4 linked regions of the Homo sapiens genome follow. The gene in region 4 interacts genetically with the main gene of each other region. Each region holds a gene or a part of one and is shown on either strand. Other genes may lie near its edges. The genes, in order: ITGAV, EIF4A3, SNRPB2 and FBXW7.

Region 1 (7,482 bases), on a different chromosome or scaffold from region 4:
TAACATCCCTTAGAACATTTTGGACAGCTACAACAAAGTTATGGCTTTAAAAATATTAATGGCAAATCATACCTTTGAGGTATGCATTAGTCAGCATTGCCTTGACAATGTGCCTGGAAGCATTTTTTTTTAACACTTGTAGCCAAATGAACAGAAGAGGGCACTGCTGCTAAGCAGGATGCAGAAACACATACCAGCTAGCAGTAGGCACCAGGGTAATGAAGGTTCCTTTCAGAAAGTAATCATTCTGACCTTCTAATTTGAGGCCAAGTGAATAATAACTCATGAGAGTCCATTATTGAAATCTTTGCTCTGATTTTTAAAGAAAAATAGCAAACTGTCTTTAAATTTGGTGTGTTACTCACTTACACACAATCCACCTTTCCAGGAAGGAGATTTGCTCGTGTAGACTTCTACAGATGGACTTACAGAACTTTTCCAGGTGGACACAGATAATCAGGGACCTGTAGCTGCTAAACTTTGATCTTACCATTGAAACCATCCTGGTCCAGATCTCCCAAAGGAGCTATGGCACTGCCAAACCGTGCAAAGACCTCAAATCCATTCAGCTTTGTCGTCTGGAAGTCTCCTGAAGCTCTCTGTAGAGACACTGAGACCTGCCCCACCTCTTGGAGTTTGCCATCAGAGCCACGATCCATGAAGAGAGGTGCTCCAATAAACACATCTGCATAACTAGAAGAACAGAAACTTCTCACCAAAGCAAGAACAAATTTCATGTCTTAGTAGGCATTTTCTTTCTTACTACAACTCACTTTTCCTCTTTCTGCATCTCTCACACCCACAGTGAAACACAAAATGATTACCAGAGCACTCATTTCAAATTTGAAACTTCCTTTAATTCTTTTAAGAAACTATGAATAATTCATAAAATTACTTTATTTGTTCATGTTATAAAAGCTACTGAAAAAAAACAGAACAAACATATGAGGTTTTCTAGAATTCATGATTAAGGTTGCTTCAAATTGTTTCCTTAAACAGAAAGATTAGCAGAAAAGGAATACAAAAACAGAAGAAAAAAATGTTTAGTTTGAGTAAAGTATTCGTAAACATGAGAAGATAACTTTCTGGAAACATTTTTTTTTAAACTTACTCATCTCCATTAATGTCAGTGGCAGCTACAGAAAATCCGAAATATGCAGCCATCTGGATAAAAAGATGAAAATGAAATGTTTATATTTCATCCAATTAGTTTAGACAATTAACATTTGTAATATATGTACCAAATAGGGTTATTTTTTTTCTCTGCATATAGTGCTTCAATCTAAATGTCTTGTCTTTTGTTTATTCTACCAACACAATGACAATCAGGTAATGAGGCTTGTTGTTTTCCTAGATCATGGACACAATATATTACATGTATATACACAATATATTACATGTATATCCTTCCAGTGTTGTTGATATATGACATTTAAGTCTAAGGACTATCAATTCTCCTTCTCAGGCCTACCCTACTATCTCCCTTTCTCTCCACTTCCCAAAACATACCAGACACAAGCACACTAACAAAGATATATAGTCACAGACAAATGTTGTGATTGAACCCAACAAGTTTTATATGGATGCCTATGTCATGAGGATAATAGATAATAATTATTAATAACAGATAATAATTGGCTCCCCTATGTGTAACTACTACTACTGTTTAAAAATTACTGTTTGGAAAGATATGGAAAGGAGCTCATTTTTGTGTCATATCTCTATAGATTACTTGCCACATGATTTTGCTTTTGAATCACACACAGTACAAATGTGTTTGGGTTTATTATGAGCTTATAATGCACAGGGAGCAGAAATGTCCTCTTCCCTACCACAGGAGACCACAGGCTTGCATAGGATGAGCAGCTTAGCTGTAAATAAATGTGAAAAAGGAAAGCTCTAAAGAGAGCTGAAAGTGCAAAACAAAACTAAAAGAGATGACAGATTAAATATAAAGTAAGGTGAAAAATGAGTCAACAAACCAAAAAAGGAAAGTTAGCAATGCTTCTCAAATTTGATTGGCTCAGATATCAAGGGAGAATGATAAGGGAGATTCCTGCATTATCTATTTTGGGTTGATACAGTGTAATTGGGAAAATGAAAGGTGTGTTCTGTATTAAATAACAAGTTCAGAGCTTGTGAAATAAAATATACTGTGTTTGGGGTACAAGGTTGATGTGCCGACTATGTAACAGAATAATATTCATGGGCCTTAGTCACCTATGGTGTTTGGCTTGGAAGTGTAAAGAAAGGATGGCATTTACTGAGACACACTTTGTCCCGGGCACTATGATTCGAATGTTTTCTTTTGATTCTCACAACTGTCCCATGAGGAAGTTGTCAGCATCCCTATTTTTATAAATAAGAAACAGATTTTCAGCAGCAAATACCTTATCCAATGCAATAACAGATTGAGCATGGAAAACCCAGGTTTGTCCTCATCTAAAAGCCACGCTTCCCACTCCTCTCTAGCCACCCCCACTTCCCAATAGTGGAAGGAGGAATAAAGCAAGTATCATTGAGTGCATGCAGTAGGATCCAGACTCATACATGGTCACCAGACAGGAGAAGCTGCTTGAGCTGGAGAAGTCAAAACGGAACAAAGGGACCACCCCTGCAGCAACCCTAACTGCCTGTCAACTGCAGGGCCCTCCAGGTTGTGCATCAATCTTGACTGCCATACAAATGGGAGGAGGTTTCTGGGGACCATGAGTCTAGTCAGTCAGCCTGTCAATCCTATCCCAAAGCCCAACAATCTCAACTGAACAAAAAGGCTTGAATCCCAGATCTGCAAACTTTGAGAAAGATTTTTCTCTACCTACTGTTTAAATGTTTATTCATCATTACCAACTTATGGTATAATTCTTTGAGACATACAACAGAGAATATTATAAAATGCCTGTACTCGCAGAGAAATGTCTAATACTTAAAAAGTACTAGCATTTTTTTAGCTGAGAAATATCTTATTTCATGTAGTAAAAATGAAGTTCGCTTATAATATCTATAATACACATATCTGTGCCATGCTTTCTGTTGCATCTAATAAAATTATAAGGCATTGATCATCCTTAAAAAAGAATTTAAAGAATTCTTTTCTCTTTTTTCTTTTCAGTAAAGAAAAAGGAAGTCTTTGTGGTTTTGTATGCATGTGATTTTGCATTTCCTAAAAAAAAAAAAAAAAGGAAACAAAAACAAGCCAAAATATCCAAATTACTTTGGTTAAAACAAAGATGAAATATTTAAAGCCCATCTTATATCTAGAATATTGAATATTATGGAATCATTAAACCATTCTGATACTGCCAAGGAAAGTTTTAAGAAATTAGAAACTCTGATGATAAAATATTGAGTGAAAAAGGCAAGACAAAATGAAAAATACAGAGTAAACCAATTTTTGTTTATATACTACACACACACACACACACACACACACACACACACACACACGCTCAAAAGAGAAATGATAATAGTTTGACCAAAATGGTAAGAGTTGGAAGAATTATCTATTTGATGAGATTATAGTTCATTTTTACAGTTTTATTTCGCAAATTTTCTCCAATGAGTACATACTGCTTTTATAGTGGGAGAGGACGATCATATTTTGGAAGCATACCTGCTCGCCAGTAAAATTGTATAAGGAGGACATGTTCTTCCCATCATAAATATAAACCTGTGAAGGAAAAATAGAAGTATGTGAAATCTGGTAAAATAGAAGATAACTTAGAGATTTTTTAAAAAATACCTTTTAACTGTCCTACCATTCCCAAAGTCCTTGCTGCTCTTGGAACTCCTGAAACAAAGTCTGAAACAAACAAACAAACAAATTATTCATTTTTTAGGACAACACTGGAAGTTGCAGACCAGAAGTGACTATGTCAGCAAGCTTTAAGTTTTACTACTTCAGTTCAAAACAAACAATCAATTTAGAAAAATTGGTACTCCGTAATAAATAGCCCAGCATTTTTAAACTATAAAATCAAAATTTACAAAATACAAATTCTGGAGGGCTCTCAAACATATGCAAATAAGCCCTCAAGTCATTTGTAATATTGTTAAACAAGAATAGACAAGATAAAGTAACCTAAGAATGAAGAAAAACTACATTTAGTTTAGTAGTACAGTAATGAAAAATAATACAGAGCAAACTGAAGTGGGGTAGAAGTGGCTGTGGCACAAAAATGTGATCAAAATCAGGTAAAGACTGTGATTCCTAAACGGAGCTCTGAAGGAAGATGGATGGACAATGAGAGGATGGGGTAATAACCGTACAGAGATGGCCCAGAAGGTAACAAAGGATGCCTAAAGAAAGAAGACACTAATTCTTCCTCCCAGAGGAATGAATTTGCTGAAGACAAGGAGGAAAATGCTAAGGAAATCACTAACAGTGTTGGGGGCTAAAAAGAAGCAGAAAGGAAAGGCACTGAAGCCAAGTGTAGCTGTCTCAATTTCAGCAGCCACTAGAGGAAGTTCAGCACAGACCTAGCCTGGACTCTCACCAGTGTGCTAACATCTTCCTCATTTCTTCTGTTATATTCCATAACAATGGTTTAAAATTGCTTAAAATTTTATTTTCTTTTCCTTTTTTTTTTTTTTTTTTGAGACAGGGTCTCGGCTCTGTCGCCCGGGCGGGAGTGCAGTGGCGCAATCACAACTCACAGCAGCCTCAACCTCCCTGGGCTCTGGAGATCCTCCCACCTCAGCCTCCTGAGAAGCTAGACACTGGTGTGCATCACCGCGCCCGGCTAATTTTTGTGTTTTTTCTAGAGGCAGGGTTTTGCCATGTTGTCCAGACTGTTCTTGAACTCCAGGGCTCAAGGGATCCACCCGCCTCAGCCTCCCAAAGTGCTGAGATTACAGGCTGCAGCCACAGCACCCAGCCACTCAAACTGCTTAAAATTTTCAATGCCACATGTTTCAAATACTTAATCTAATTTTTTTAAAGATTAGATATAGTTCAAGTACTTCATACCATCTATGCCATCACCATTGAAATCTCCGACAGCCACAGAATAACCTAAACAGGAAACCAAAGGGGAGAACCATCAGGACAAGGACGTTATCTTCAGCAGGCTTGCTGAGTAAGCATTCCTTGAAAATATTTTCAAGAAACTCCTTTACTTATGCAATATTTTGTCCCCTAGTCATAACAGATTCATATATATATGACATATGAATTTTAAATGAAACTGAGTTAAATACTCAAATAGTCTATTTTTATTACAAAACTACAATTGTCTTATTAACTTTACAAAGGAGTCTGTTAAAAACACCAAATTTACAACTCATCATAAAGAACAAATAAATTCTCTCAATCAGCAAGTACTATTTCTGTCATATATGACTTGTTTTAATATATCATAAAGAAATTGAAAGAGAGAACACATGTTAATAAGTCCTAAAGACCAAAACTTTTATTTAACATCATGAAGAAAACTTCAGGAGTTAGACTGTCTCCATTTGAATCTCTGAACAGCAAGTTACAAGCGAGTGACTTTGGGCAAGTTATTTTGCGTCTCAGTGCCTCAGTGTTTTCACCTACAAAATGAGAATAATACAGTATGCTTGACTTGTGAGGATTAAATGAGTGAATACAAACCAAGTCACCTTGAACAATGCCCAGAACACAGTAAGCATATCTTAAAGGCTAGCTATTATTATTATCACTGCACAAATAATCACTGTCTTCAATTTCAATTACTGAAACGTAACATAACCAAAGTACTCATTAACAATTTGAAATTGTATATTCTGTATGTTTCAAAAAATCCTAATCTATTTCACATAAAATATTTTTCTACTTAAAAGACCATACTCAGATATAAGATATATGTACCACAGTTCCAAAAATGAGTAAATTTTGGTTTTACCTACCCAAATAGCTGTCATCAAAAATAGCTTGTGCAGTCCGAGTTGCTAATTGGTTATTATACTTGATGCTGTAAACATTGGGGTCGTATTTAGATACGATTTCTGCCACTTGATCCGAAATAAGCTGACCTAAAAAAGGGTGTATATATAAAATAAATAACCTTCAAATGGAAACTTTATGATACAGATAATGTATGGTACCTGCATGAAGGAAAACAATATTAGATATTAGTACTTCTAATTATTAGCCGTACATAACTCTCCTTGATCATACTCAATTTGAAAATGGATATTCTTAACTTAAAATTATTTCTGTTTAAGCCAGTACTTAAAAGTAGTCTCTGCTAATAAAAATTTAAGAAAACAGGACTTGTCTTAAATCACTAGAAAGCAATGTTAAATACACGGAATAATAAAATCAAAGGCTATCACCCAACTAATCCATTAAAACATGAAAAATTTACTGAAACAATACTGTTACTTTTATAATCAGAATAATTGGTTCAATTGATATTTTTTAACTAGTAATTTAAACATCTTTAGGAAACAACCTGAATGGATGAGTTCACCTTTGTTCACAACCTTGTTATTAAGCAGACAAGAAATCTAGATGACTACACAAAAATCAGCCTGCCCTCCATGCCAAGAAAGGATAGCTGGTTTATCAAGTGTTGTCTCCACAATATGGACACAGTAATCTCTTATCATTTCTGCTGTTTTAGAAAGAAATGTGTAACAGCTAACATTTTCAGTCCTGTTCCCATCTGTTCAGTCACAGAGACTGGATCTACAGCACAGAAGCACTTTCTCTGTCCAGGTCACTACTTTATCATCTGGGCTTCAGCGGTACCAAGAACATATGAAATTCAATAAACATTTCCTGAATTGAAGAACAGAGGAAAATTCATTATTTCTTCTGAATAAAACATTATTCTTTTCTCCATTCTAACAACGACAATTCTGAGATCTGTGAAAAAATTCATTCTAACGTACTTATCCAGGGTGACATCTGCTGATTTTAATCTTATTAAAACAAAATACTATTTGCCAATTCACTGAGTCTGCTAGCTATATATTACAGACAACTTGTAATAAAATTCTAATAAATATAATATTAATAGTACCTCTCTGTCCTAATTTATTACTGTGTCCTAATTATTACACATTCCTATTTATTATTATTCCTATTTATGCAATACCCATGGCATTAAAAAAAAAGGTCATACATTTTCACAGCTGTATCTCTTAAAAAGACAGAGTTAACAAGTAGTCCTAACTGAGAATCACAAAATTTAGCTTCCTTGACAGTTTTGGTTCCCAGGCATGCTCATCAGATACTTCCTTCCCCTCCACTGAATGACATAATCAGCAATAAAGAAGAAAAATAAATCCATATTTCTATATCTAACTATAAAGTGTTAATATCCCCTATTTTCTCATATGTACTTTAGAACTGCTATTTTTGTTTTAAAACAGTAAAACTCAATTATAATTTTTCTAAATCATTTTATTTCCCAATAGATGTATAATGCATAGAAATTCCAATTTTTCAGCTTTGCTATGTCTCACATTCTGATCCCTGTCTGTGATGCCTGAATTTTCTATTTTTTTATT
Region 2 (8,448 bases), on a different chromosome or scaffold from region 4:
TGAGCCGAGATGGCACCACTGCACTCCAGCCTGGGCAACAGAGCGAGACTCCATCTCAAAAAGAAAATGAAAGCTTTCCACAGTAGAGAACACAAATTTAAAAAAGTATTAAACCCTGTGGCTAAAGTCAGGGAAAGTGTTGGAACTGAGCGTGTACAAGCTGAGGGAAACAGTCATCCCAGAGCATCTAACTGCACTGCGCTGCCCAAATTTACATCCAGCCCTGCGCCGCACCCCAGGACAACTTACTGTGCGATGACATCTCTCCCTTTGATGATCTGCTTGATTGCTCGTTGCTGGATTGCTGATGGTTTTTCAAAACCTGCAAATAAAAACAAAAAATTAGCCCTCACCACAATGACAGCATAGAAACCCTGTACTGTGAGCTCCTCAGGGGCAGACATGGTTTGTTTTTTGAACCTGTCCTCCAGCCTAACCCAGTGTTCAACATAGCAAGCTCTCAAAACCCAGGGGCTCAATGAATTGGGCTGAGTGATTTCTACACTAACGTGGGATATTATTTGTAAAGACCAATCTCTATTTTTAAAAAACCACCAAATTGTAGAATATAGACAACAGTTTTGTTTAAAAAAAAAAAAAAATCTGGGTGTGCAGCATCTGGAAGTGTAAGTGCCAAAATGTTCCTGGCAGTTACTGCAGTAGAGGGGTGGAAAGAAACTTACTTTTTACTCTAATTACTCCCTTAGGTTTGACTGGATTACAAACAACCTATACTACTTTTTAAATTAAAAAAAAAAACAACAAAAAAACAGGAAAGTCACTCTAGCCATTGTTCTCTCCTACTAGCTAGCATTAAGTCTGTGTGTTGCTGACAGGTCTACAACTCTGTTTAACCTGCGTGGGTCACGCTGCAGGGTGTCCTATGTTGTTCTGTCTGGATGCAGCTCACTAACTACAACACCATCACACCATCTCTCTTGCAAAGCAACTACTACACCAAAGGGTGAGGCTATTTTGAAGAAGAACCACGTGTTTTTCAAGTAAATAAAATTTTATGTACAAAAACTCTATTTCAATTATTTTTTGGTAGTCTCTTAAATGTAGCTCTGCTCAGTTCTGGGGCATAGCGAAAAATAAGAAACAAAAGAAAATGTAGCACAATTTCCCATCTTAACACAAATGCAAATATAGCAGATGATTTAAACTCTTCATGAAGAGCAAGCACATAGATGGGAAACTAACAACAGTGTCTTAGGGCAGGGACTGCCTGAGTGCCAGGAAACCAGGTGGGGCTGTCAGCCTCACTGTGAGGCTGCCTGAGATGCTTTTTCACCACGCATCCTCAGCAACTTCGCTTCACTTTGTCCAAACTGTTGTGGCATCAAGAACTACAGGATACGGCCAGGTGGGGTGGCTCACACCTGTAATGCCATCACTTTGGGAGGCTGAGGCTGGTGGATCACTGAGGTCAGGAGTTCAAGACCAGCCTGGGCAACATGGCAAAATCCCCTCCCTACTAAAAATACAAAAATTAGTAGGACGTGGTGGCCCACACCTATAATCCCAGCTACTCGGGAGGCTGAGGCAAAGGAATCGCTTGAGCCCCAGAAGTGGAAGTTGCAATAAGCTGAGATCATGCCACTACACTCCAGCCTTGGTGACAAGAGCAGGACTGTCAGAAGGAAAAGGAAGAAAGAAAAGGAAGAGAACTACAGGATAAAAAATGTCCCTGTCCCAAGCATTAAACACAGGCCATTTATCCCAGATGCTGGTCATTCCCATCTATGTGCCCAACCCAACCTCTTCTCCAGGCTCTCCCTCAACTTCCTCACATCTTTCAAACATACCAAGAGACAGCTCCTGATTCTGACTCTCTGGAGTGCTGCCTACCTAGCCAAATGTTTGCAGCATCAACCACCGGTTACTCAAAACACTCCAACTCTCCTCCTTCTGTCACTCACGTTCAATCCATCAGCCAATGCTGTCAGCTCCCTGGTACTCCATCTCCAAGGCAGCACAATCCTCTCTTCCCTGAACTGCAGCAAAAGCTCCCAACTCTCTTGTTTCCTCTCCTGCCTTGCCTCGCCTCACCTCAAATCTACAGACACCCAGAAGAATCTTTAAAACTGTAAATGTGATCGTGTCACATAGCTACTTAAAACCTTCCACTGGCTTCCCACTAGATTTCTAAATGAAATTCAAATTATTCGTCACCCTACACGTCTTTGCTAGATCTGCCCCGACTAGCTCTCCAAAATCCCACCACAGGGGACTTCTTTCAGTTCCTGGAATGCAGCTGGCTAAGGGCTGCAAGGCCCTGGCACCAGCTGTTCCTTCTGCCCCAACTGCTCTTCCCTCTTCTCATAACAGTCTCCTTCATCCAGAACTCTGCTCAAATGGCACCCCCTCCTGCGAACCCCCTTACCTCTCTGCTTTACTAATTCTCTCCTCCTTCCCAGTCCCACTCTATTCAATTACCCCGCTTCAGGTTCTTCAGGTTGCCTGGGCAACCTGACAGTATGCTTTCCCCCCAAACGAAATTCAAAACCCGTAAAGGCGCAAACCCTTCCGGTTTACCGCCAAAACCCCAGTACCTAGAAAAGCTAATAGGTAGAAATCAGTTATCTGCTGAATGAAGGACGCTGAGGTGCCTCGAAGCGGCTGCAGCCCCCGACAGACCCAGCGCCGAGCTCTGCACGGGGGACACACACCGAAAGCGCCGACACAGCCAGGCGTGAGGGCGAGGACGGGGGTGGGGGTGGGGGTCGGACGTCACTGGCCCCCGAGCCTCGACCCTGACCACGACCTCCGGAGCGCAGGGCCGGCCCGGGAGTCACCAGTCTGGCCCTCAGCCCCCGGCTCGCCCCCGACTCGCCCCCGGCTGGCCCCCGCGGCCCGCGCCCGCTCACCGTAAGCGTAGATGCCCCGCAGCAGGTCCTCCCGCAGGCCCATGGTGTCGAACGTGGGGGTCACATCCACCTCCTCGCTGGTCTCGAATTCCACTTTAGTCATGTCTTCCTCTTTGAGCAGCCGCTTTCGCGCCGAGCCCGAGGTCGCCATCGTGGCCGTGGTCGCCATGATTCAGAGTCCGCGGAAGAGCACAGCGCGCGCCGCTGCCGACCTCGCTGCCGCTGCCGACCTCGCTGTGCCGCTGCCGACCTCGCTGCCGCTGCCGACCTCGCTGTGCCGCTGCCGACCTCGCTGTGCCGCTGCCGACCTCGCTGTGCCGCTGCCGACCTCGCTGTGCCGCTGCCGAGAACAGACGCCTTAAGTATGCGAAAGCGAGAGACGTGCGTGCGTACGTGCGTACGTGCGTACGCGCGACGCGGCCACGCCTCTGGGGGACGGGGCACTCTTCGTCACGTGAAAGGGAACTGGGCGTTTGCCGCAGGGAAAAGTAAGGTGTTTCTGCTCTCGCGCCATATGCAGTTCCCGCGGGATCTCGTTGAGGGCGGGGCACCCAGTTCCTTACGAAAGGGATGGAGGGGGTGGTACTTCTAAAGTTGGCGGTGTTTCGTACCGGCCGCGGGATTTCGCGGACTGGGGCGCTGAGGTTCTTTGAGCGGCGTGTGGACCTGAATTCCCTGGAAACAGGCTGGGGCCGCGAGGGGCCTCCGCTCCGGGCGGGGTCCCCAGATAGCCCCGCCTCGAATAAAAATGACGAGCACGGGTCCTCTCTCGGGCCCGCAGTGGGTGGACTGCGTCGCAGACCCGTAGTGGAGGCGCCCAGCTCGCCGGGGAGATTCGAGTGGAAACCCTCACGGCCGCCGGTGGTGGGCCCCGGCGCGGCGCTGGGCTCCGGCGGGTCTGCGCTGGGGAGGGCCAGGGCCCCTGAAGCCGGCGTCCCTCTTAGGGGACGCGCCTGGGTGTGTCTTCACCGTTTGCCTGGTGAGTTGGAGACAGGGTCTCGCTCCGTCGCCCAGGCTGGAGTGCAGTGGTAGGATCAGGGTTCATTGTAGCCTCCGCCTCAGCCTCTGGAGTAGCTGGGACCTCAGGCGCGCGCCACCACGCCCGGCTAATTTTTTAAATTTTTTTGTAGAGACGGGGTTGGGGGAGGCGGGGGTTAGGGTTGTCCTGGCTGGTCTTGAACTGCGGGGCCTCAGGTGATCCGCCTGCCTTGGCCTCCCAAAGTGCTGGGATTACAGGCATGAGCCACTGTGCCCGGCAAGCAGCTGTTATAAATAAAATACATGCTGAGCCTGCAATTTGCTCTTAATGAAGGCCACTTGTCAGTAGACGGTGCTGCTAATGCGTGTCCTGCAGCAAAGATAACCCAGACGGGATCATTTTTTAATTGCCCAGCAGAACTTTAACCAGTTGTGCATCTTAACCTGCTTTTTGTTTGTTCGTTTGTTTGTTTTGAGACAGTCTGGCCCTGTCGCCCAGGCTGGAGTGCCATGGCGCGATCTCGGTTCACTGCAGCCTCCACCTCCCGAGCACAGGCGATCCTCCCGCCTCAGCCTCCAGAGCACCTGGGACCACAGGTGTCCACGCGCAGCCACTAACCGCTTTCTTATCTGACACTTTAAGTGCTTCTTCGTACCCAGCTCCTCTAACGCCTTTTGAAGCAGCTCCATCATCTTTGAAGGGCAGTTCATGCTGTTGAGAATCATGTTTTTAACTTTGGGAAAATTGTATTTCCACGAGCGCCAGCTCTGTCCTTTTTTTTTTTTTTTTTTTTTTTTTTTTTTGACGGAGTCTTGCTCGGTTCGCCCAGGCTGGAGTGCAGTGTCGCGATCTCAGCTCACTGCAAGTTCTGTCGCCCAGGTTCACGCCATTCTCCTGCCTCAGCCTCCCAAATAGCTGGGACTACAGACACGCGCCACCACGCCCAGCTAATTTTCTGTATTTTTAGTATAGACCGGGTTTCACCATGTTGGCCAGGATGGTCTTGATCTCTTGACCTCATGATCCGCCCACCTCGGCTTCCCAAAGTGCTAGGATTACAGGCGTGAGCCACCGCGCCCCGCTATTTTGTGTGTGTGTGTGTGTGTGTGTGTGTGTGTGTGTGACAGAGTCTCGCTCTGTTCCCCAGGCTGGAGTGCAGTGGCGCAATCTTGGCTCACTGCAACCTCTGCCTCCCGGTTCAAGCGACTCCCCTTCCTCACCCTCCTGAGTAGCTAGGATTACAGGCATGCACCACCACGCCCGGCTAATTTTTGTATTTTTAGTAGAGATGGGGTTTCCCCGTGTTGGTCAGGCTGGTCTTGAACTCCTGACCTCATGATCTGCCCGCTTCAGCCTCCTAAAATGCTGGGATTACAGGCATGAGCCCGGTCCTGTCCTTTCTTATGGTCACAAATCTGGCTTGCATCGCTGGGCACATCTTTAATCCACAGCTTCTTTCTAGGAGTGCTTGAAAAGCTCTCCTTTTATGAAGGTTAATTTTAGTTAAAACCAGAGCATCCTGGCCAGGCCTGGTGGCTCACGCCTGTAATCCCAGCACTTTGGGAGGCCGAGGCAGACGGATCATGAGTGTAGGAGTTCGAGAACAGCCTGGCCAAAATGGTGAAACCCCATCTCTACTAAAAAAAAAATACAAAAATTAGCTGGCCGTGGTGACGGGTGTCTGTAGTCCCAGCTACTCTGGAGGCTGAGGCAGGAGAATCTCCTGAACCCCGGAGGTGGAGGTTGCAGTGAACCGAGATTGCGCCACTGCACTCCAGCCTGGGCGACAGAGACTCCATCTCAAAAATAAACAGAAAACCAGAGCATCCTTTTATCAAGAAGTCGGTGGATTGCAGTATTTCAAGGGTGAACAAGTAAATGCAGCCTTCTCCAAGAGTGAATCTCATTCTGGCACCAGAATTTATCCATGACAGATAATTGACCTTCTGATAAACATTCCTTGTAAGGATGCTGGTGTTACCCAAAATATTAAATATTTATAAAGCTGAATAAAATGTAAGTTCTGATACCTTCCTCACTCTACAAAGGATCATTTCGTGCCTCACACTGTTTGCCAGGCCGTGCTGTAGCGCTTTGTCGTAAAATACACACAGATTTCAATGACTTAACGTAGGAGAAGAATGTAAAATACCTTGTTGACTAAAGAAAAACAGTTAAGCTTTTAAAGAATTAAAGTTAGTTTTATTCAGAAGCCTTACTGAGGACCGTACATCCTGGCCCCAGCCCAGGAGCTCAAGCGATCCTCCTACCTCAGCCTCTCAAAGTGCTGGAATCACAGGTGTGAGCTACCAGGCCTCTCACCTTGTTCAAAGTTAAAATCTAATCCACAAACTGCTTAGATTTGTTTTCCTTCATATTTTTATGACTAGATGATCTAACATTTTACACCATTTTTCTGGAAATGTTGTTTATGCCAGGTGTCTGAACACACATCTTAAAGGGCTCTAACTTTTCTGGGGAGCAGTAGCTTTTTAGCCCAGAGTCTATGACAATGTGACAATGATGAGAGCTGCTGAGGTTTGCTGCAGTCTCTGGGTGAACGATGCTTTCTAGGGAAACAATGGGGCATAAAACAGACATGGGCTCTCCTGCCTTGAGATTAATCGCGTGAGATGGACCCCTCCCCAACACACAAACATTGTGGGACATGAGGTGCTGGAGACGGGGTTGCTCACCCAGAGCTTAATGGGTCTGTCCACCTTTGTGACCAAGAGGCCTCTTTTCTTAGAGGCTGAGGGGCCCTGGGATGATGAGGGTAAATCCACTTTTTAGAGCAGGAATCTCCAAACCCCAGGCCACGGACCAGTATCAGCACCTGTCTGTGGCCTGTTAGGAACCAGGCGGTGCAGCAGGAGGCAAGCAAGGGAGCTAAACTGAGCTCTGCCTGCTGTCAGCAGCAGCACTGGACTCAGAGGAGTGTGAACCCTGTTGTGAACTGCACATGCGAGGGATCTAGGTTGTGCACTCCTCATGAGAATCTAATGCCTGATGATGGGAGGTGGAATAGTTTCATCCCGAAACCACTACCCCATCCATCTCTGGAAGAATTTTTTTCCACCACCTGTGGAAAAGTTGTTGACGTGGCTAGACTTTGTGTCTTCACCCACATCTCATCTTGAATTGTAATCCCATAATCCCTATAATCCCCACGTGTCGAGGGAGAAGCCAGGTGGAGTAATTGAATCACGGGGATGAGTCCCCCATGCTGTTGTCTTGATAGTTGTCTCGAGATCTGATGGTTTTATAAGGGGCTCTTCCCCCTTTGCTTGGCACTTTTCCCTTCCTGCCATCTTGTGAAGAAGGTGCCTTGCTTCCCCTTCACCTCCTGCCATGATTGTAAGTTTCCTGAGGCCTCCCAAGCCATGCTGAACTGTCAATTAAACCTCTTTCCTTTATAAATAACCCAGTCTCGGACAGTTCTTTATAGCAGTATGAAAATGGAATAATACATTTGTCTTCCACAAAACCCATCCCTGTTGCCAAAAAGGCTTTAGAAAACGCAGTGTGGGTAGGTGGTGAATAGATGGGAGGAGACTCATGTTTTTGTCATGTAGGAGAGCAGCAAGAGCTCCTCTCAGGAGAAGAGGTTTTTGCTGTGAAATATGGTGCGTGCTTTTCCATGGCCTATGTAGTGCTCAGCAGATGCCCTAGCATCAATAGGATCCCAAACCCCTTGTTCTGTTTATTACTGGTAGGCAGTTAGGATCGTGTCAGCCATGTCTTGAGAACATGCCTTGTGAGTCATGCACCAGATTTGTTAAAGTGTCGGCTCTGTGTAGCTCTGTTGTGCTATGCATAACATCTACTTAAAAAATGAGAGCTGACAGCCTCGCTTAGCTTTCTATCCACAAGTCCCCTGCTTAAAATTCTGGATAAATGTTTCCGTTCCTATGGGAAACCTCCATTATCTCCATAAGTAGAGAATGCAGATAGGTATCTTTTTTCTTTTACTGATGGAGACACTAAGGCCCAGTGTGATAAGTTCAAGCGCCCTACAGGGAAAGGCACAAGCAGGCCAGGCTCTAGAGTTCCCTAAACAGTAGCTATAGTGCCTGCCCTTTGTCCCTGGCCCCCAAGGTGTCTAGGAAAAGAGGCTCCCGGTCACTGAGGTAGACAGACCCCTATGCCTGGTCTCAGCATCCTCGCTGTCACCGGCATCTCACTTCCCACATGGTTTCCACGTTGGGGAGGGAGACTACTCACCCCATTAAATGCGGCTGCTAGGGTCATGTCTGTTTCGCCCCCACTGTTTCCCTAATGCTCAGTAGGTGTTCAATAAATAGTTGTTGGCTTACTCAATGTGTGGACCTCTGGGGCAAGAGAGAGGGAGGGACACAACGCAGTCCCAGCTGGCCAGGAGCGCTGTGAGCTCAGGAGGTTGCTGTGGGGGAGATGGTGAGGTAGGAATTTGGCAGGACTTGTTTCACAAGATAGAGGTCACAAAGACCCGCTGATAAAACAGGATGTGGTAAAGAAGCCTCCAAACTCCACCAAAAGCAGGATGGTGATGAAAGCAGCCTCCGCCTGTCCTCACTGCTCCTTATATGCTAATTATAACGCATCAGCTGCCAAAAGACA
Region 3 (7,397 bases), on a different chromosome or scaffold from region 4:
AACCTAGATGAACAATTAAACTTTCTATGCCTGTTTCTTCATCTGCAAAATGAATGGGTTAGATCAGCGGTCTGTACCACAGTCTGTGAGCCAAACCCTGCCCACAGGCCTGCATTAGCATGGCCTACATGAATTTTCTTAGATAATGTTAAAGGGTTGTTAAAAAACGTAAGTACATAAAAGAACAGGTAACAGAAACCATATATGGCTTACAAAGCCTAAGGTATTATGTACTTCTTTACAGTTTTTGCTGATGCCTGCATTAGACCAAAGAACAACCAATTTGTTTACCGGAGGTGGTAAAACTAACCACGGGCACAGAGCCAGTTAATAGTACAACCAGAATGAAGACCCAGCTCCTCTAAACCCTGGCCCTTGGCTCTCTGTCCAACACTCCTTCACATCACATTCTAATCGCAGAAAAAAAGCAGTTTGGAATCCACACCTAAGATATGGTGTATTCACTCATACATAGAAACCCCTTGCTTCACACTCTGTGGTCACCCTTATCTGATCCTCTACCATCTCTGACTTACATCAAGGGCCTCCTAATTGAGTTTCCCACTTCCTTTCTGTCCCTCCCACAATGCGACCTTCATCCAGCAGCTAGATGTGAATCTCATTATGTCATTCCTGAGTTTAAAACTCTCCATTCATAACCATTTCATTTCCATTGTTATTCCTAAAACCTATGAGTTTAAACCTATCATTTTTCCTTAGATCACTGTTTCATCTAGACTGTGCAGCTTCTGACACATAGTATTTCACTACGACATATTCTAAAACTTCAGACTGAATTTCCTCTTTGACTCATGACTTTTGTTTCGTAATGTTTTACAAGTTTACAAACAGGTTTCTTTTCAAGTCTTCCAGGATATTATTAATTTCTAACTTTTTGAGATAAGACTATTGCCTAGACTGCCATTATTTTTTAAAATATTCTACATCTCAATGTATTTTGTTTTTGCCCATCTGAACTGTCATAAATTAAACTCTACCACTACTGTTTTTCTATAAAAATACATAAACCCAAACACACATAATTAAAAGCAGAAAGCAATAGCCACAGTTTCAAGCATATTTACAAATCTACTGTCCCATCAATATCATTAATTTCTTGATTAAAGTGAAATAATGGAATTGGCTTACCATTGGTTTACCATAAAATGGAAATCCTTGTAGCTGTCTCAAGGCATTTGTGGATGAGCCCAGTTCCTTAAATATGACAAAGGCCTGCCCCCTCATCTTCATGGTCTTTAAAGCCACAATGTCCACCACATGACCAAACTGAGAAAACAGGGCATATAGGGATCTCTTCAATTCTGTCCAAATTAGAAAAGAAACAAGTTATTGGTAATAAAGTAATGACAAAAGTCTTCATAAAATGATACTGCATTGAGTTGCCCCCCCCACCATTCACTTATTTATACAGTTATATATTTTAATATTTATAAAAACATATACTATTCCCATTGGCTATATGTAATTTTAAAAGTTATATGAAACCATTATATCTATGAGTAGAAACAGACTGTACACACTGTCAGTTCCTACCTATTTTTGTTTTTTAAAAGCCTTCAAATCCCTATAGGAAATGGGATAAACCATTATTTCAGGCACTAAGATGATGAGGTAAGAGGTTTTGAGGCAGTACAATTTTTAAGACAGTAGTAAATAAACACATTTTAGTAGTGAACAAGTATTCTAAAAAGCACTTACCTTCCTTTTTAATTTTGTCATTCATATTGTTGATATAAATTGTATGATTTGGTCTGATATCCATGTTTGTGTTAAATTCTTCAGGAGACAGTAAAAAATCTGTTATAAAAAGGAAGGAGTAAATTATACTGGACTGTGGCATAAGGACACAACACAAGAATTATTAACTTTTCATTTCTCTTTCAATCCCAGTTGTCAGAAAATGTCAGTTTGGCTGTAGCCTTTATTGTATCTCCAGCACCTACTAGCCCTCCTTTTCATACAGAAGAAGAACAGTTTCTCACATTCAAAACTTGGAGCACCAATACCTAGCCAGATTTTAGTAACACCATTTAATTCAACACATTTATTTTTACACTTACGTTTCACTTATGACACGTGACATTTTCTTTCCACCTCCTCAATGAAATAATTTTAAAATGTAGATTTGAAGAAAAATGACCAAAGTAGCAAATGTACATCCAGTAAAAATCATAAGGTTAGACATTAATGAAGTTTGCCAACTACTTAATGGGTGCACTTACAAAGTCCTTCCATACCTATTAATTTGTATACAGCATCACCAAGCTGTCTGGACTCCAAGGTTATCTCTAACCGACTTGAAAGAAAGGAGCTCAATGACAGCAGTGTGGCATGACGATTAAACTCAGATTCCAGTATCAGCCAGATGTGAATTCAAATCCTATTTATGCTTCTTACTAGCTGTTTGCCTGAGGGAAGTTCCTTAACCTCTCAGGTCCTCATCAGTAAAATAAGAATGGTAACAGAACCTACCCAATAGAACTCAGAAGACTAAATGAATTCTAGCACAGTTCTGCATCAGCGGTAAACACTTAAGAGTAGCTATTATTAACAGCTATTACCAGGTAAGGAACTTGCCTAAGGTCACACAGCTAATAAGCATCAGGCCTGGAAATTCAGCCCTTGCTTTCTCCTCTACACTTGTCTTCCTCATATACCACACTATTGCATTTTTTACATGGTTTTTACTTGCAAATTGTGAACTTGGATGATTTCCTTGTGTGCCCCACATATTCCTTTATCTCACAGTATTTACAGAGCATCCACTGTATGTGAACTGCATTGGATGATTGACAAGGGAAGAGCCTACAAGCAGGGGCTGCACTTGTGCAGGTAACAGGTAAAACGTAACGCTTCTCAAAGCCTTGCGACCCCCTAAATCGAAATCTGGAGAAGGGGCAGGGGTCGCAAAGGAGACGACGAAAGGGAAGTGACTGAGGCAGAGGTCAAAGTGAAGGTAGGGGGACAAAGGGGAGGCTCTTGCAGGGTTTCATGCGAGGTTTGATCGTGGGCTGCGTTGTTACAGGGACACCCTGAATTACCCGCCACCACCAAAAGGGAGCCGCTGGAAGACACCTGAAAGCGCAGTGAACTGTCCACGCCTCGCACGAGCAGACTGACATTAACTATCCTTTACTTCGTACGCGCAAGCCTCCCGCCTCTCCAGACACAAGCACCTTCGCCCAAGGCCCCCTAACGAAGTCCAAGGGAGCTGCCACGCGATGCCCGGCCCCAGAGTCAGTCTCCTCACCCCCAAGCCTGCCCCTCCGAGATCCAAACCCGGGCCAAACGCGTACCCACCCCAGCTTCGCGCTTCGTCCGCTCCCAGCTGCAACAGGGGAGAAAAGGGCCGAGGAGCCAGGAAAACCGAAACAGCGAGGTAGAAGGCGCACGAACCCACCTAAGGCCTACGCCGACTACTGTAAGAACCAAAAGCAGGAAACGGAGCCAGGCACCGGAAGCAACGTAGCCACGCTCCTCAATCGAGCGCCGACAAGTCTAGAAGCCGAGCACAGAGCCGATCGATGCTTCCGGGTCTCTGGCAGCCAGGGCTGGCAATCTCTCTGCGCGTGCGTCTGCCCTGCGGGCAGGAGAAGAGTCCGGAAATGGAAATGGGGAAAGAGAAGGGGGTTGTGAGGACCATGCTGCGAGGGAATAGTGAAGGGGAGTGAATCATTTCCCCTACCACGACCTTGCGAAGCTTTACCCGGCGCAACAGTGCCTTCCACCTTTACAAATCCTATGTAATTTTACAGGCGCTGCCCCTCATGCTATGGGGCAGTTAGTCCTGGTTTCGCCCTTCTTTGGGCTCTAGCTACCCCGGTTTAAAATCACCTTTAGGATAGCCAGTTCCTCCTGCCTCCGAGTCTCCTCTGATTCATGGGGCTCTGCAGGAACTGTCCTCCAACACTGTGCTGATGAACTTGAATCTCAGAGGCTACTCAGTTTGAGGGCCCAGGGCAGACAGAACTGGTGTCTGCCCAATTCTCATCTCTCACCAGATAAGGCAACCATGCTGACTAGAACCCAGTCATCTGTAAGATCATCTGCCTCAATTCACTCGAAAAAATAATTCCCTACCACCCTTCCCACTCTTTTCTTCCAACAAAAGGTCTAGATTTTTCTAGGGTATTCTAAGGAGTTAGTATTTATGCCAAGCTGAATGGGAGTTCCCAAAGTGCATGCATTCATTCATCCATCCATTCATCAGATGTCTGTAAAGCATCACCTGGAATATGAAATGGTTGTTAAGAGTCAACTGGAACCTAATCTTGTACCCTCTGCTTAACTAATCTCTCTGACCTTCACTTTTTTCATCTGTAAAATAGGGATCCTAATAGTACCTCCTTCTAGTTGTTGTAAGCATTAAATGAGCTAAAATAAATGTAAAGTGATTGGCACATTGTCAGACACAATAAATGCTCAAAAATGTTATTTCTGAATTCTGGCTATAACTTGGTTCTACTGGTGAGGCAGGTAGCTGTCAAATAAGTTGGTTTTATCAGCTGGGAATTTTTATTTTTTAAAAACACCCAAAGTTGCAACAACTTGAAAATAATATAAGCTTTTTAAGGGTGGGGTTTTTGTCTGCTCTGTTCACTCAAGTACCCTTAGTAATGGGAAAAGTGACTGATAATTAATATGCATTGGATAATTCAATGAATGACATGGAAAACTAGGCAACAGTAAAACAAATATGCTTTGAACATGCACCTGAGTGTAGAGAATGTTAAGGGATCACAGAAAAGCATCGTTTTATTATATAGATCTAAAACTAGAAGAAATGGCTGAGTGTAGTAGCTCACACCTGTAATCCTAGCATTTGGGGAGGCTGAGACAGGAGGACTGGTTGAGTCCAGGAGTTCAAAATCATCCTGGGCAACATAGTGAGATCTCATCTCTAAAATAAATAAACCAATGAGAAGAAATGTCCTATCTCAGTCAAAGAATTATATCTTTAACAAATTAAAAGAGAATATAAACTTAATATAAACAATTTCTAAATAACAAAGGACAAGCTGTTTTGCATATTACTATGAGCATCTCAGCAATTAGTTCTGTTTGATAATAATGAGGATGGCTACACTACTGAGAATAAACTATACTCTGTATTGTATAAGGGGATCTAGCCAAGAGTTGATAACTGTTAAAAGAGAATAAGATGTGATTATACAAAAACACTCCAACCTGGGAAGAAAATACCACAAGAAACACAGAGGCCTGAAGACAGACTGCATGTTGTGTTCTATTAACAATTAAATTACAGCTATTGTACATTACACTGTGAGAAGGAAATCATCCATTGCCAACTCAGCCGCAATGGTCTGCATGCACTTTTCCAGGTTCTTCTAAAAAGAGCCAGTGCATTTTCCTGTCCTTGGGCAGTCACTCTGGGCATTCCAATAACCCGTTAATGATTCTCAGTGGTTTCCTGAACGATTTGAGAAGCCAGTTATTGAGAACAGTACAGGAAGGGAATGATAAGGATCGAATAGCTTTTCTGGTTTTGTGAGAAACCTTGCATAGCCTGGCTATGTAACTATATTAAGAATATTATAGCAGCTAAACTATGGTCACATGTACTGTAAAACATCATCACTTTATAACCAGATCCACTTCTTGAGGGTGAGATCAGGAATCAGATGTCCAAAACTCACATTTTTAAAAACTAGAAGAGCAAATGAGTTTTGTTAGTTCTGCTCAGTCTGTTCTTTCACATTTGGGTTAGGTATCGTGATTTATTTTCCTGTGAAACAGGCTTTTTTTAATCGAGAGAAACAAGGAGGCAGCGTTATAACCACCCTATCCAAGTGTCATGTATTTGCAGATGATAAAACTTGCTTATTTTGGGAGTAGCAGAAAAATTACTACAAACAGTAGGGAATAAAACTGTGCCAAGATGTCTAAATTATAAGGAAGATAACTGAGGTGTCTCTTAGTGACTCTGAATACACATACATTTCCCTACCTTATCTGCACGTGTTTTATGTTTCTCATTAATTGTTTTTGGTATCTTGCTGCAGTAGTTTTAAGAAGGAGCCATGTATAAAGGAAAATGCACCATAAAACTGGTGGATAAATTTTGTCTTATTTATGTTACATAGAGTCACAAAATGTATGGCAATTCGTTTGTATCTTCTTTCTCTCCCCAGGTGGTGATTACATTAAGAAATGTATCTAGAGTGAAATTATTTTCACAACAAGCATTAAACAAATCTAGGCGTTATTGTTGAGCACCAAATCAGGTTTATGTTTTCCAGGGAGGTTGGGATAATGTTGACTGAAACTTCCTAAAAAGCACCACTCTCCCACCCCCAATTCAGGGAGGAAATAATTTTGTGCAATTTTCTTTCATTTTACTTAATTCTTACATTTCATTCTTTGTGGATACATTCTTGCTTTTAGGAATGAAAGAAACCCAAATATGACTATTGCCTCTGATGTTCACTACTGTATTAATGTTAAGAATAGTGTGTCTTTCACATGCAGCAAAATACCCTCTCCCCAGAATGGGTGATGTCTCAGATAGGCTATGAGAATGTGCACATTCCATAAAGTTTGGAAATGGTAGTTTTTCTTTGAGGACCTGATCATTAATCCAAAGAAGTGTGGGGAAAACCTGAACTTTTTTGGTGAACTTTTTGTGAGACATGTAGGTTGTGCTCAGTATTGTATCACCTGCCCTTCCCTAAAGGAGCTAAAGTAGCATCATACAACTGTCGTTCTCTTTGAGACTAGAAAATTAAGATTTCAGTCCCATGAGATGCTCCCATGAAATAAAATATTATGCACACACAACTTTTAAATATAATGGGTTTTGCTTCCCCTATGATTAATCCCTGTAATTTTTTTTGAGTCTTAAGCCTTAGGACAGTTTGAAAACACAAAATTTAAAAAGAACAGCTTTAAAAAAAAAAAAAGACTGTCAGGCCCTGATTGTGTAATTTCAAAAGTGATATATTGTTGATTTCTTGGGCATTCCCCAGATATCTTAATCCAGTGCTGAGAAGCTGCATTTGTAGCAAACTCCCGGATGATGCTGATGCTGCTGGTCCCATACCGCATTTTGGGTAGCAAGAACCTAAGCATTTCTTTTTTAAGAATGGTTGGGGTCGGGCGCGGTGGCTCAGTTTGTAATCTCAGCACTTTGAGAGGCCGAGGCAGGCGGATCACAAGGTTATGAGTTCGAGACCAGCCTGGCCAACACAGTGAAACCCTGTCTCTACTATAAATACAAAATTAGCTGGGCGTGGTGGCAGGCGCCTGTAATCCCAGCTATTCTGGAGGCTGAGGCAGGAGAATCGCTTGAACTCAGGAGGTGGAGGTTGCAGTGAGCCAAGATCATGCCACTGCACTCCAGCCTGGACAACAGAGTC
Region 4 (7,482 bases):
TCAGCCTCCCAAATAGCTGGGACTACAGGCATGTGCTACCACGCCTGGCTAATTTTTTTTGTATTTTTAGTAGAGATGGGGTTTCACCATGTGGGTCAGGCTGGTCTAGAACTCCTGACCTCAAATGATCTGCCCACCTCGGCCTCCCAAAGTGCTGGGATTACAGGCGTTGAGACACCGCGTCCTGCCAAAAAATTATGGTAATGTTTTATTGCACGTTTGGGTAGAAATGACAAAGTTTTTGGGGTCCCTGCCTTTGAGATGCTTTTACTTGTAGGTGGTGGAGACAATCAAACACAAATTGCACAAAGCTATAGGAGAGGGGGGATAGACCAATATTTATCTAAGACCGCACTGGATGTTAGATATTGTCAACTTATAGATGTGAATATATTTTTACATTTTTCACTAGGGAAATGTTGCTTTTGGACGTGTACATATAGAACTAATTGAAGTATTGAAGCCAAATCTGGGAAGGTTTCTTTTAGGAAGAAAAGAGCAAGTGGAGACACAATATTTAAGACTTTTGGAATTGAAAGGCATAAGGGACAGATAAAATTACGAAGCTGGTTTGAAGGGAATACAGATAGAGGTTGTTGAGTAGTGTTAGGGTCAGTTGTGTTTGTGTAGACACATGATTACAGTTCAAAGAAGCAACTGAGAAGAGTGTTCCTGAGAGTAATTTCAGATGACTGGGGAGAAATTACATTTTAGGTAAAAGCTGTATGCCTGGATTAGGATTTTGTTTTTCTAGGGAACCAACATTTTTATTATATCGTGGCTATCCAGGGCTATACAGAAGGAGGAGTGAAAAAGAAGATGCTTAGTGTGTTGAAAGTGGCTTCTTACAAAAAAGAGTTTAGAAATGGGACAGTAGACTTTGCTTTGGATGTGAAATTTTAGGGCAACAATTGGATACTGGTGCAGTTTCAAAACAGCAAAATAGTTTAGCAGGTAATATACTGAAAATGTAAAGTTGGAATTATTTTCAAAGTATTTAGGTTTCCCAGAGTACTGATGGAAAGTGAAGAGCTGAAAAGTGGGTATTTTTAGTTAGGGGGAAAATCTGAATGAATGAGACACTACCTAAAATAGATGTTTTAGAAGTGGATAAGAGTTGAAGTTAAAAAGGAATGAGCAGGCTTTAAACATGGCCACCAGTTTAGTCCCAGGGTATATTATTCTGTATTTTTGAAACAAGCTAAAATTTTTTTTTTTTTTTAAATAGGGTATATAGGTCCCTTGAGATTAAGTTCAGAAGAGTATACTTAATAATAATTTCATTGTTAAGGAATTTATAAATAGAAGGACAGATTTGTTTCCTCAAATTCATGTTTTAAAGTTCACTGTGCATTATTATCCTACGTTTGGTCTTGATATGACGAAGTGAGGCCAAAAATAGCTGACAGAGAAGGCTGCTTCCCTTGTTCACAGTTGGTGTGTGTCTTTGTGTCCCATACAATGGAGGGGATATCCCTGTGTAGGCACAGTAGTGCTGAACATGCTTTTTTTTTTTTTTTCCTTTTAAACTTTTTATTAAAAAAAAGCAACTTGGCATTTAAAAAAATGTAGACATTTTTGCGGCTTGCATTTAGTATTGACTTTAACAGGATTAAGGATTGTGAGGAAGGAAATATATATTCACACTTTTTTGTGTTCCTTAGTTGGAATTCTGCACCTTCCTAGTAGCTTCTCTGACTTCTTAACAGTGATTATTCAAATGGCAGAAACTCTGGGGAAGAGATGTTTCAACAAGGAGATAGGTCTAAGGTGATTCTAGGGTGAAAATATAGGGATTGGATTATATGCCATATGGAGGCCTTCTCTTGTCATCCTCCACTTTCCACAACATTTTTTGTGCAGTCGAAGCCATGTTCAGATGAATTTTAGAAGGCAGCCACTTATAGTTAATGTTATTTACTAGTGAGGACAGTGGGAAGAGTGGTAACTTCATGTACTTTGCCTTGGCAACTTTTGGATTGATAGGGAATTAGAGAGCCTTGAGGGTATATGTTTGTGTGTGTGTGTGTGTTTTAGCACCCACCAGATGACCCCAAAGGCCATGCATAGGCTCATTTCATTGTACTTTGGAGATGGTTCTTGGAGAAGTCTTCTGGTGCTTCTGACATCTCATTGTGTAGAGAAAGAGTTGGCAAACTATTTTTGTAAAGGGCCAGTTAGTAAATATTTTAGGTTTTACAGGCCACATGATCTGTCACAACTTTCAATTCTGTTCTTATAGTGTGAAAGCAGCTGTAGACAACAAGGAAGTGAATGAATGTTGCCGTGCTCCAATTGGCCCATAGGCCGAAGTTTTTGGACTCCTGGTATAGACAACTGCCAAATCCACCAACAAACAGTATGAGCTTTATTACACTACAAAGCCAGGACTGGCTATTTTTGGTGGTCTTTGTTTTCTAGATGAGATGTTTTTCTCTGAGTTCATTTAAAATGATTCTGCATAAAGCACATACTCTACTGTACAAAATACTTTTGCCTTCATGGTGATGAAAACTATGGATTGAGGGTCGGGGTGATACCATCTTTAAAGGGATGCAGCTAAAAAGTAGGGACTACCTGCATTTCTTATCTAAAGATAACCACAGTTGGCATTTAGTGATATACTGGCTTTGTATCATGGCCAAAAGTATCTGTAAAGAAGCTTGTGGGCATACTTTTGAAACCTTCTGAAAATAAATGTAAAGCATTTACTTCGTGTGTAAAATTAGAAGTGTCTATGGTTGGTTTGAATAATATGAGTCAAATTATAAGAGCATTAAAGTTTGATACTGCTATCTATTAAAGTCTTAATCTCTTGCAGTGGCTAATTCAGTGTGTAGAATTACACATCGCAATTTTTGTTTTGTTAATTTCAAGTACTAGTGTATATTAACAAATCACTTAAATCATTTAAATGTGTACTTTAAAAAGCTTTGATGTATATACATATATATACGTATATATATATATGTACACGTATATATATACACGTGTGTGTGTGTGTGTGTGTGTGTGTGTGTGTATTTTTTTTTTTTTTGTGACGGGGTCTCATTCTGTCACCCAGGCTGGAGTGCTGTGGTGTGATCTCAGCTCACTGCAACCTCCACCTCCTGGGCTCAAGTCATCCTCCTACCTCAGCCTCTCGAGTGGCTGGGATCACAGGCATGCGCCACCATGCCCGACTAATTTTTTTGTATTTTTGATAGAGATGGGTAACAACTTTTGGATTGATAGGGAATTAGAGAGCCTCGAGGGTATATGTGTGTGTGTTTTAGCACCCACCAGGTAACCCCAAAGGCCATGCATCATGTTGCCCAGGCTGGTCTCTTAACTCCTGAGCTCAGGTAATCCATCTACCTCGACCTCCCTCAGTGCTGGGATTGCAGGCGTGAGCCACCACACCTGGCCAGCATTGCTATATTTTTAAGAGTGAATCTTTCTCACATGTGTTGTTCAGAAAGTGTAATTCACTTTGTGCAATTTTACATTACAGTTAATATTAAAATATTTGTTTCATATGTCAGCAGATACCAACATTGGATGATGGTATATTTAGTTTCATAAATCCTATTTATTTTAGGATTCCCTTGTTTATGGCAGGGGTGGAGATTACTCTTGCAATAATGATCACTTTTTAGTTAGTTTGAAACCTGCTTTTAGTTTATATGTAGTATTTCTACATATTGTTACTTAAATTGAACTAACAATTTACTTTTTAATTTTTCTTCTTCCTTTTAAAAAAAGAGTATATAATCTGACAATGTTAGTACATCTTTTAGAAGGTCACTATAAAGTTGCTTTCCCTATTTATTTGGAAAGGATTATTTCCTTATTATTTTAAAAAATCTTTTAATTTTTGTCTTTTCAAGTAATTTTATCATTGTCCCAAGCCTAAGGATGAGTGGCAATTTAAAAGACACAAGGTGTGCATCTTCTATCTGCAAATACTCCAAACAGAAATTATTCCAGTTTGTTGATACTTTGAGTGGACCAGGGAAAAATGTGTATGTTTTTAGTGTAACTGAATTGTCATTACAAAAAGATGAGTAAAGTTGCTGTTAAATAATGAATTCTTGCTGTTAATTTGTCCTGTTCTTAGACTTTCCCCCATTAAGTATAATGGGGGAAAATGTACACACACACACACACACACAAAGTATGTATGTGTAGATATACCTAGCGTATTGTGCTAGATGTTCATTTCTGCATGACTGCTCTGGAATTTAGGCAATATTAAAAGACCTTACAAAATATTTTTAATATCACTTAATATCCTGTTTTATGTCTTAATGTACTTTTATGTTTTTGCTGCTTTCTGATGATACCTCCTTGGTACTTCCTCATGATACCTTTCACAGTATGTTTAAATGGAATGTATTTTCTCAAAGTACGTGACATTTTCTGAACACTATGGGATATATATCTTCTAGTAATTATATTTTTACATGCAAGTATCTTTAAAAATTTCTTCCTATTACAACTTAAGAATTGTGAAACATTTGAGGGAGCATCTGCAGTTTGAGCACTTGATCTGGATATTGGAATGACAAACTTAACATTTAACTAAATTTTTCTGAGGTGTTCTTTTACAATTTTTGAGTTAACACTTGATTTCTGTAAAGCAGAAGGCTTATAAGAAGAAAATATGAGAGCCAGTGTTCGTCTTGTATTATCCTGCCATGCACGTAGTTGAAAATCAGAAACAAACAGAAATGCACAAGAGACCTTATTGCTTGAGTATCTTCTGCTCTTCCCCCATCAGACCTAAGGGACAGCTAGTGGATCAGTCAGATACTGTGCAGTTTCTGTTGCTATGCTGTGTCACCTTTGCCCTTTCTTTCTATCTGGAAGATAGCTACTGGAAATCTGGCTGTAAGAAAGAGATAGCATGTTTTTTTCCTCTCTCTCTCTGTGTGTTTCTGTCTGTCTGTGTACCTGTACCTAGTGTATTGTGTTAGATGTTCATTTCTGCATGACTGCTCTGGAATTTAGGAAATATTAAAAGACTACAAAATATTTTTAATATTATTTAGCCTTTTCTCTGAGAGGATCACATCCTCTGGCTTTGGCGTTTTCATCTCACAGCATCTTAAACGAACCCGTCAATGTTTATTATCAGTTCCAAATGTGAAGTCTCAAGGCAAATTGTTGGTTTGTTTTTGGAAGAATGTATGTGTGTGTGTATATATATGTGTGTGTGTGTGTGTGTGTGTGTGTGTGTGTGTGTATATAATTTTTAAATTTTTAACAAAAATTCCTGATCTAGTCAATGCTTATGAGAGTGTGTGTGGTTTGTATAAAATTATTTTTTTTAGAGACAGGGTTGCTTGTTGTCACCAGGCTGGAGGGCAGTGGTGTGATCCTTGCTCACTGCAGCCGTGACCCCCTGGGCTCAAGTGATCTTCCCACCTTAGCCTCCTGAGTAGCTGAGTAGCTGGGACTATAGGTGTGTACTGCCACACCCTGCAAATTTAAAAAAAAAATTCTGTAAAGACAGGGTCTCACTATATTGCCCAGGCTGGTTCTCAAACTCCAGGACTCAAGCAGTCCTCCTGAAATGGCCTCCCAAAGTGTTGAGATTACAGGCTGGGGCCACAGTGCCCGGTCAGAGTGTGTGTATTTTTTAACAGCCTTTTAGGATTGCATGCTTTTTAGGGGGGTGAATGAGGGGTAATATACCTTTGCATGACATTCTCTAGGTCTGAGAAGGAGTTGCTTCACTAAAAGTGTAATTTATAATTACCAAATGGTTGAAAACAGGTCTACCTGGAGTCAGCAACAGGCAGCTAGTTTACTTCTCATTTACGTAATAAAATACATTCATAATATGCATTCAGTAATTCATAATTCAATAATTTCTTGGCTTCATGGCCTTGGACAAGCTATTTATTATCCTTTTAATTTTGGTGGCATCACCTGTTGATGGAGGAAAACGTGTCCTTTACATGGTGGTTGTTAGGATTAAATGAGATAATATAAAGCATGCAAAGCTCTTAATCCAGTGCCTGGCATATAGCATTTGACCCATCAGTGTTAATTTATTAAGTTAAAGTTGTTTTAAAGTGTGTTGTAGATAGAAGATTTAAATCAGGCCTTATATTAAGCCCAACATTTAAATTCAACACTTGAGTTTGACAAATAATACTGAAGTAATTCTGTGTTTTCAGAAACATCTAAAACTTCATTAACATTTTATTAAAAACTGAAGAAATGACAGAACTGTTGGGCTTTTTTTTAATAGAAAAGAAAGACTGATTTGAACATAACTGGAATTTGAATTTAGTTTCAAAGATCTCAGTAGTGCATGGACCAGAAAAGAATCCGTTTTTGAATAGTTAGTGATTATGATAGTGACTGTGGTTTAAATTGCCCATTTAGAAATAGCAGGATCTAATTCAGTTATCAGCCTTTTTAGTTGCCCATCTCTTTAACCCCTGGAAATAAAAAGCTTTAAAAAATCATTAAGAAGTTGAACGGAAATTTTATCTGTGTCATTTACATCTCAAATTAAGATCGAAATAATTTTGTTTACATGATTCTATTTTAACTACTTAATTTTAGTTTTTGTTTTTTCCTGAAATTATTAGTATGTGGGTTTTAAAAATTCCTTTTTTTGTGTGCTTAATATTTGTTAAATACAAGATTGGTTTTCAGAAATACCTTTTCTTCGAGTAGGGCATAATCAGTGTTTTATTGGCCAATACAATAAATAAATGCTTCTTGATTGTTTTTGTATTTGGAAAGAAATTCTATGTTGAGAACAGTTTTGGTATGCTTTCCTTCATTGGCTGTTTATTGAATAGAACTGTATATTTAAGGTATATGAAAAAAATCTAAGCTAGAAAAAAAGACTGAGATACATTCTTGGAAGAAAATACTTGCAAACTATGCATCTGACAAAGGTCTATTGTCCAACGTCTATAAGAACTTAAATTTACAAGAGAAAAACGACCCCATTAAAAAGTGGACAAAGGACGTGAATAGACACTTCTCAGAAGAAGACTTACATGTGGCCAACAAGCAAAGAAAGCTCAATATTACTCATTAGAGAAACGCAAATCAAAACCACAATGAGATACCATCTCAGACTATTCAGAGTGGCTACTATAAAAAGTCAAAAAATAACAGATGCTAGTGAAGTTGTGGAGAAAAGGGAACACTTATATACTGTTGGTGGGAGTGTAAATTAGTTCAACCATTGTGGAAATCAGTATCGCGATTCCTTAAAGAGCTAACAGCAGAACTACCATTCCACCCAGCAATCCCATTACTAATGGGTATATACCCAGAAGAATATAATTCATTCTACCATAAAGACACATGCACACGCGTGTTCCTTACAGCACTAATCACAATAGCAAAGATGTGGAATCAATCTAAATGCCCATCAGTGACAGATTGGATAAAGAAAATGTGGTACATACACACCATGGGATACTGTGCAGCCATAAAAAAGAAGGAGATCATGTCTTTTGTGGGAGT

The links.
Region 1: changes in FBXW7 (region 4) and ITGAV are lethal when combined (synthetic lethality), as found in Homo sapiens cells (one study listed by BioGRID).
Region 2: changes in FBXW7 (region 4) and EIF4A3 are lethal when combined (synthetic lethality), as found in Homo sapiens cells (2 studies listed by BioGRID, with this or other methods).
Region 3: changes in FBXW7 (region 4) and SNRPB2 are lethal when combined (synthetic lethality), as found in Homo sapiens cells (one study listed by BioGRID).

What each region holds. Positions count from the first base shown.
Region 1 is NC_000002.12:186,634,597-186,642,078, reverse strand, and holds part of ITGAV (integrin alpha-V isoform 1 preproprotein), read right to left. Parts: intron 5,998-7,482; coding exon 5,872-5,997; intron 5,015-5,871; coding exon 4,970-5,014; intron 3,803-4,969; coding exon 3,759-3,802; intron 3,671-3,758; coding exon 3,614-3,670; intron 1,165-3,613; coding exon 1,112-1,164; intron 694-1,111; coding exon 491-693; intron 1-490.
Region 2 is NC_000017.11:80,143,923-80,152,370, forward strand, and holds the start of EIF4A3 (eukaryotic initiation factor 4A-III), read right to left. Parts: upstream 3,207-8,448; 5' UTR 3,040-3,206; coding exon 2,871-3,039; intron 323-2,870; coding exon 250-322; intron 1-249. UniProt on the Homo sapiens protein: ATP-dependent RNA helicase. Involved in pre-mRNA splicing as component of the spliceosome. Core component of the splicing-dependent multiprotein exon junction complex (EJC) deposited at splice junctions on mRNAs.
Region 3 is NC_000020.11:16,726,089-16,733,485, reverse strand, and holds the start of SNRPB2 (U2 small nuclear ribonucleoprotein B''), read right to left. Parts: upstream 3,461-7,397; 5' UTR 3,322-3,460; intron 1,819-3,321; 5' UTR 1,784-1,818; coding exon 1,720-1,783; intron 1,323-1,719; coding exon 1,150-1,322; intron 1-1,149. UniProt on the Homo sapiens protein: Involved in pre-mRNA splicing as component of the spliceosome. Associated with sn-RNP U2, where it contributes to the binding of stem loop IV of U2 snRNA.
Region 4 is NC_000004.12:152,525,611-152,533,092, reverse strand, and holds part of FBXW7 (F-box/WD repeat-containing protein 7), read left to right. Parts: intron 1-2,242; exon of another isoform or gene 2,243-7,482. UniProt on the Homo sapiens protein: Substrate recognition component of a SCF (SKP1-CUL1-F-box protein) E3 ubiquitin-protein ligase complex which mediates the ubiquitination and subsequent proteasomal degradation of target proteins.